Regions from separate parts of the Homo sapiens genome. Here region 1 is linked to region 2. Evidence: fine-mapped expression QTL. A gene starts in region 2. The other region holds a variant in brackets. All regions are shown on one strand. Distances are from middle to middle. Region 1 overlaps PRODH2 (proline dehydrogenase 2). Region 2 holds the start of LIN37 (lin-37 DREAM MuvB core complex component).

Region 1 (2,907 bases), 53 kb after region 2:
AACTGCAAAACCCCTAGCTTGGGCTGGCTGAGGTCAAGATGAGCCCTTCCCCAAGGAGGCGGCGTCAGTGCAGGACAGCAGCTTAGGCAGCACCTAAGGACTTTTATTGACCACATGACCCCCTCAGGGGTGCTAGTGGGGTATCCTTCGGCATCCTGGCAGCAGCCGCCGCCACAGTTCTTGGCTGAGCAGCTCCTGTTCCCTGCGGGCACCCTGAAGCACGCTCCGGTTCTCCTGGGCCCTCCGGATCAGGTAGGGGATTACCTCCTCCAAGGAGCCATAGGGAATGGACTTATACACTACATAGCCGGCCTGCCCTGCAGGGAGAGTGGGTTTTGTTTTTTCGTTTTTGGTGTTTTTCTGAGACAGAGTCTCGCTCTGTTGCCCAGGCTGGAGTGCAGTGGTGCAATCTCAGCTCACTGCAAGCTCTGCCTCCAGGTTCAAGCGATTCTCATGCCTCAGCCTCCAGAATGGCTGGGATTATAGGCGCTTGCCACGACGCCCGGCTCATTTTTGTATTTTTAGTAGAGATGGGGTTTCACCATGTTGGCCAGGCTGGTCTCGAACTCCTGACCTCAAGTTATCCTCCTGCTTTGGCCTCCCAAAGTGCTGGGATTACAGGCGTGAGCCACCATGCCCAGCCTGGAGTGTTGACAGGGTATGGGCTTGGGCTGGGGGGACACTCCCCAGTCCCCACCTGGAACAGAGACTTCTGTTTCTGAGAACATGGCAGATTAAGTGAGTTGGATAAAATTTCTAACTGAAAAAGCTAAAAGTCCTGGAGCAAACTTTTTTTTTTCTCTCTTAGACAGGGTCTAGCCCTGTGGCCCAGGCTGGAGTGCAGTGGTGTGATCACGACTCACTGCTGCTTTGACCTCCCAGGCTCAAACAATCCTCCCACCTCAGCCTCCTGAATAGCTGGGACCACAGGCATGCACCTCCACGCCCAGCTAACTGTTTTTATTTTATCTCAATTGATTAATTAATTAATTAATTAATTTTGAGACAGAGTCTTGGTCTGTCGCCCTGGCTGGAGGGCAGTGGCACAATCTCAGCACACTGACCAACCTGGCCAACATGGTGAAACCCCGTCTCTACTAAAAATACAAAAATTGGCTGGGCATGGTGGTGCGTGCCTATAATCCCGGCTACTGGGGAGGCGGAGGCAGGAGAATCACTTGAACCCAGGAGG[C/T]GGAGGTTGAAGTGAGCTGAGATCGTGCCACTGCACTCAAGTCTGGGCGACAGAGCCAGACTCTGTCTCAAAAACAAAATAAATAAGCTGGGCGTGGTGGCTCACGCCTGTAATCCCAGCAACTCTGGGAGGCCAAGGCAGGCAGATCACCTGAGGTCAGGAGTTTGAGACCAGCCTGGCAAACATGGTAAGACCCCATCTCTACTAAAAATACAAAAATTAGCTGGGCGTGGTGGCAGCCGTCTGTAATCCCAGCTACTTGGGAGGCTGAGGCAGGAGAATCGCTTGAACCTGGGAGGCAAAGGTTGCAGTGAGCCAAGATGGCACCACTGGACTCCTGCCTGGGTAACAGAGCAAGACTCTGTCTCAAAATAAATAAATAAATAAAATAAAATAAAAGAGAAAATGAGAACCCAGAGAGAGAAGAGACACACAGCAAGCCACTTCTGCCCCAAAAGCAAAACCGAGGTGCTATCTGATGAATTCACAGAGTTGCGGGGGGACATTGAGTCAGTCTTCAAGCCTGAGGTGAGAGTTATAAGGGAGAACTTCCCCAAGTTAAGCTGGAACCCAAAAATCTACACCCTTAGAGTAAGAGTTAATAAAAAGTCAACCCTGCAACCTTCCCCCAGTCCCAGGAAATGGTCTTGGCCATAAACAGATCAAGGAAGAAAACAGAAAAATCCACCTCTGCGAAGTTGGGGCTATGGGTTAACCCCCTTATGTATTTGCAGCTCAAATTTGTGCCAGTGGGGTGTTTCAAGAAACCTCAAGCTATGAATTTAGGATAAAGTGATTTCGTTCTGCTTAGCACCTGGCAGAAGGAAACATTAATTACCTGGTGTCAGGCCCTGAGGAGCAGCACAGTAAAGATAACAAAACACACAAGAAATAATACACCATGATCAAGAACCAGCAGAAATGACAGACGGCAGACACAGAGACACAGCCTTGGAAGGCCCACAGACACTGGAATGACAGATCTCTCTGGAAGGATCTGGAGGCTGGGCCTTGGTTGGGAATAGGAGAAGGGCTCTGGCTGGGAGGGAGTAAGGCCTGGGGCTTGATGGGGGTGGGGGAGCCATTCACATACCCAGTGCTAGAGAGACGTGGTCACACATGCCCAGAAGTTGTCCGAAACAGACAGTCCCATCCAGAGGAATGCCCAGCTCCCACATGCTACAGAAAAGGCCACATCATCAGTCCAGACTGTGGCTGCATCTACAGCTTAAAGTCAGCCACTATGCACCCATATGGCGGCTCCAGTAATTCAAACATTGAAGTATTTCCAAACTCAATGATACATAATAACCAGTCCTTTGCATTCCTTGAAGGTCCCCCAGTGACTCCCAGCCAGTTCCCTGGAGCCCTCAGACCTCCTCATGCCCCAGCAAATAAGGGGCAACGTCTTGTCCATCTGGGACCTATAAGGACTTACAGGTATAGCAGGGGTTAATGTGTTTGTTTGTTTGTTTGTTTTAAGAGGTAGGGACTTGCTTTGTTACCCAGGCTGGAGTGCAGTGGCTCAAGCACTGCTCACTGCAGTCTCAACCTCTTGGGCTCAAGTGATCCTTCCACCTCCGGAATAGCTGGGACTACAGGTGTGCGCCACCACACCCAGCTGTTTTTTTTTTTTTAATTTGTTGTAGAAATGGGGTCTTGCTGTGTTGCCCAGGCTGGTCTCAAACAATCCTCCACCTTCGCCTCCCAAAGTG
Region 2 (2,907 bases):
AACTTTCCTACTGTGGGCTGCAGTATTCTCATCAGAAGTGTAGATCACGATGCTACTTCCTGGGATTTATCTGGACCAAGACGTGTGACAAATGGAAGTTTCCCGTTTTCTGAAGGAAGTGTTGTCTGCAAAAATAAAAATAGTCAAGAGCTTTCTCAGAGAATCCTTCCTTGACCATCCATCTTATTTAAAATTCAATCACCACCTTGATATTCCTATGTCCCTTTCAGGCTACACTTTTTTTGTGGGTTTTTTTTTTGGGGGGGGAGAGGGGTTTGTTGTTGTTGTCTGTTTGTTTTTCTAGATGGAGTCTTGCTCTGTCACCCAGGCTGGAGTGCAGAGGTCCGATCTCGGCTCACTGCAACCTCCGCCTCCCGGGTTCAAGCGATTCTCCTGCCTCAAACTCTCGAATAGCTGGGATTACAGGCGCATGCCACCATGCCCGGCTAATTTTTGTATTTTTAGTAAAGACTGGGTTTCACCATGTTGGCCAGGCTGGTCTCGAACTCCTGGTCACAGGTGATCTGCCTGCCTAGGCCTCCCAAAGAGCTGGGATTTACAGGCGTGAGCCACCATGCCCCGCCCAGATCATATTCTTTCTCCTATTACATTTCACTTAAAATTTACTTGTTTACTGTTTATCTTCCCTCCTTTAAAAGATAAGCTCCATTAGCGCAGGGATTTTTGTCTATTCTGTTCCTCAAGGTGTCTCCAATGCCTAGAAGAGTGCCCGACACACTAATAAATATTTGCAAAATGAATGAAGTTGTACCTGCAAAGAGATTAACAGATACCTGGCACCTAGCGAGTGCTCAGTGAGAGGGAACCCAACGTTATTTTACATTAGTCTTCCTCTTAGGGATGAAGGGACCCCAACGGTTGGTTAAATCCGGTAAAGAGCTAACTTGGTGTTGCTCAACCCTTCTCACACTACAAGTCCCGGGAAGCCTCGCGATGCCCTAATCCTTTGTTTCCCACCGTGCCCCGCGCGGCGCAGGCGCTGTTACTCAGGGTGAGTCTGGGAAGCTGGAACTACACCTCCCAGGAAGCTAGGGGGTAGATGGTTTGTTTCCGGAAGCAAAGCCCCAGGTGGGTGGGACCTAAAGCTGGGAGACTACGGAGGCAGCTCTCAATTGGTCAGGATGCGAGATTGACGGCTGCAATAACTAATAGGAACAAGCTACTGCCGAAGGGGCCCGCCCACAGAAGGGTGGTGGCCACGGTCCAGGCTGGACACAACCAAAGGCGGAGGACCCGTGGCCCACGAAGCTCATCTTTGAACTGTCCCCGCCTTCTCCCGCCTTGACTTGTGACCCTAGGCCCTTTGGGGCGCCTCTGACCCAGCTAGCCAGATCCCGGACCCAAACCATGTTCCCTGTGAAGGTGAAAGTGGAGAAATCAGGTGAGGACCCTGACGTCGGGGGCCTGTCGGGACCATCGGGTTGACAGGGTGTGGAGTCCCGGTGGAAGGGAGTATCGCGGAAAGGGGACTGCACGACTTTTCCCTGAAGCCCACCTGACAATCGCTGTATCAGGCAGCGAGCGTTGCCTGCCACCTTCACACCCTCCCGGTGTGCGCTTGAAGTCGCTTTGAGATTGAATGGGGTGGCTCGGGCAATGACGTGCGTGGTAGGACATGGGGAATCCTGAGCCGGTAACTCTGAGAAGGGCCCTTTTCTTTCCTCTTTTTTTTAATTTAAATTTTTAAAATATTTAAATAGAGACGGAGTATCGCTATATTGCCCAGGCTGGTCTCGAACTCCTGGTCTCAAGCGATCCTCCCGCCTTAGCCTCCCAAAGTGCTGAGATTACAGGCGTGAGTCCCCGCGCCCAGCCGAGAAGTTCTCTTTTCTTGGCTTCCCCTCAGTTTCCCCATTTCCAGCAGTGATCAGAGTCACACATCTTGCTGTGAGCCTGAAGTACAGGCACTCTTAATCCTCACAGTCACTATATTCCAGTAATCCTAGAAAATAGGAACTGTGGTCAATGGGTGAAGCTTAGAAAGAGGAGAGAATTTTGGGTTGGGGCGGAGCTGACCGGATCCCAGGCCTGGCATGGTAAGGGCAGTGGGAGGGGTGCAGAATTTAGACAGAAAGATAATAGTAAAATGATGTAGGATGTCCCATGGCAAAAGTGTTATTAAAACAAAGTGGGAGGCTGGGTGCGGTGGCTCACACCTGTAATCCCAACACTTTGGGAGGCCGAGGCTGGCAGATCACTTGAGGTCAGGAGTTTGAGACCAGCCTGGGCAACATAGCGAAACGCTGTCTCTATAAAAAATACAAAAAAAAAAAAAAAATTAGCCAGGTGTGGTGGCACAAGCCTGTAGTCCCAGCTACTCAGGAGGCTGAGGCAGGAGGATCGCTGGAGCCGGGGAGGCGGAGGTTGCAGTGAGCTGAGATCACACCACTGCACTCCAGCCTGGGTGATAGATTGAGACCCTGTCTCAAAAAAAAAAAAAAAGAAAGGAAAAGAAAAGAAAGAAAGAAAAGAGAAGTGGGTGTGACCACAAATGATGGTGAGGGAAGGTGTACACCTGTGAGTGCCAGGCTGAGGAGTGCAGACTCCACCCCTGGGTGCTGTGGAGTCATGGAAGTTTCCAAGCAAGGGAAGATCAGGGTCAGGTTTGTTATTTTTCAGGAAGATTCCCCTGGCTGCCTTGTGGAGGGTGTATCAGAAGGGGGACACTGAGGCAGGGAGCCAAGGGGGAGCAAAGGACAGGACCAGGATGGGTAGAGTAGGGAGGAGGTGGGTGGGAGAGACACTCGGGAGGCCTAGTGGACAGGCCATGGGGTTGGTGGGCTGGGTAGGGGAGGGAGAGGGGTATCCATGGTGAGGTACAGGGAGGGACTTGGGGACAGTGAGGCGACCCTTGAGAGGGAGGCTTCAGGCCCAAGTCGGGGGTTC

The links. PIP is the estimated chance that this variant, and not a neighbour inherited with it, causes the effect.
Region 1: its variant is fine-mapped to the expression of LIN37 in breast (GTEx, PIP 0.90).

The regions. Positions count from the first base shown.
Region 1 is chr19:35,799,906-35,802,812 of GRCh38, forward strand. PRODH2 (proline dehydrogenase 2) reads right to left here. Exons shown (of 10, transcript NM_021232.2): 9 at 2,286-2,371; 10 at 83-317. The coding sequence ends at 133. Among named protein-coding and RNA genes, the nearest start is that of PRODH2, 11 kb to the right of the region's middle. The variant C/T (reference allele first, on the strand shown) is at 1,193.
Region 2 is chr19:35,747,357-35,750,263 of GRCh38, forward strand. LIN37 (lin-37 DREAM MuvB core complex component) reads left to right here and starts at 1,220. Exons shown (of 9, transcript NM_019104.3): 1 at 1,220-1,402. The coding sequence starts at 1,369. PSENEN (presenilin enhancer, gamma-secretase subunit) reads left to right here. Exons shown (of 4, transcript NM_172341.4): 4 at 1-163. RefSeq lists enhancers at 474-988, 890-949, 989-1,503, 1,350-1,469.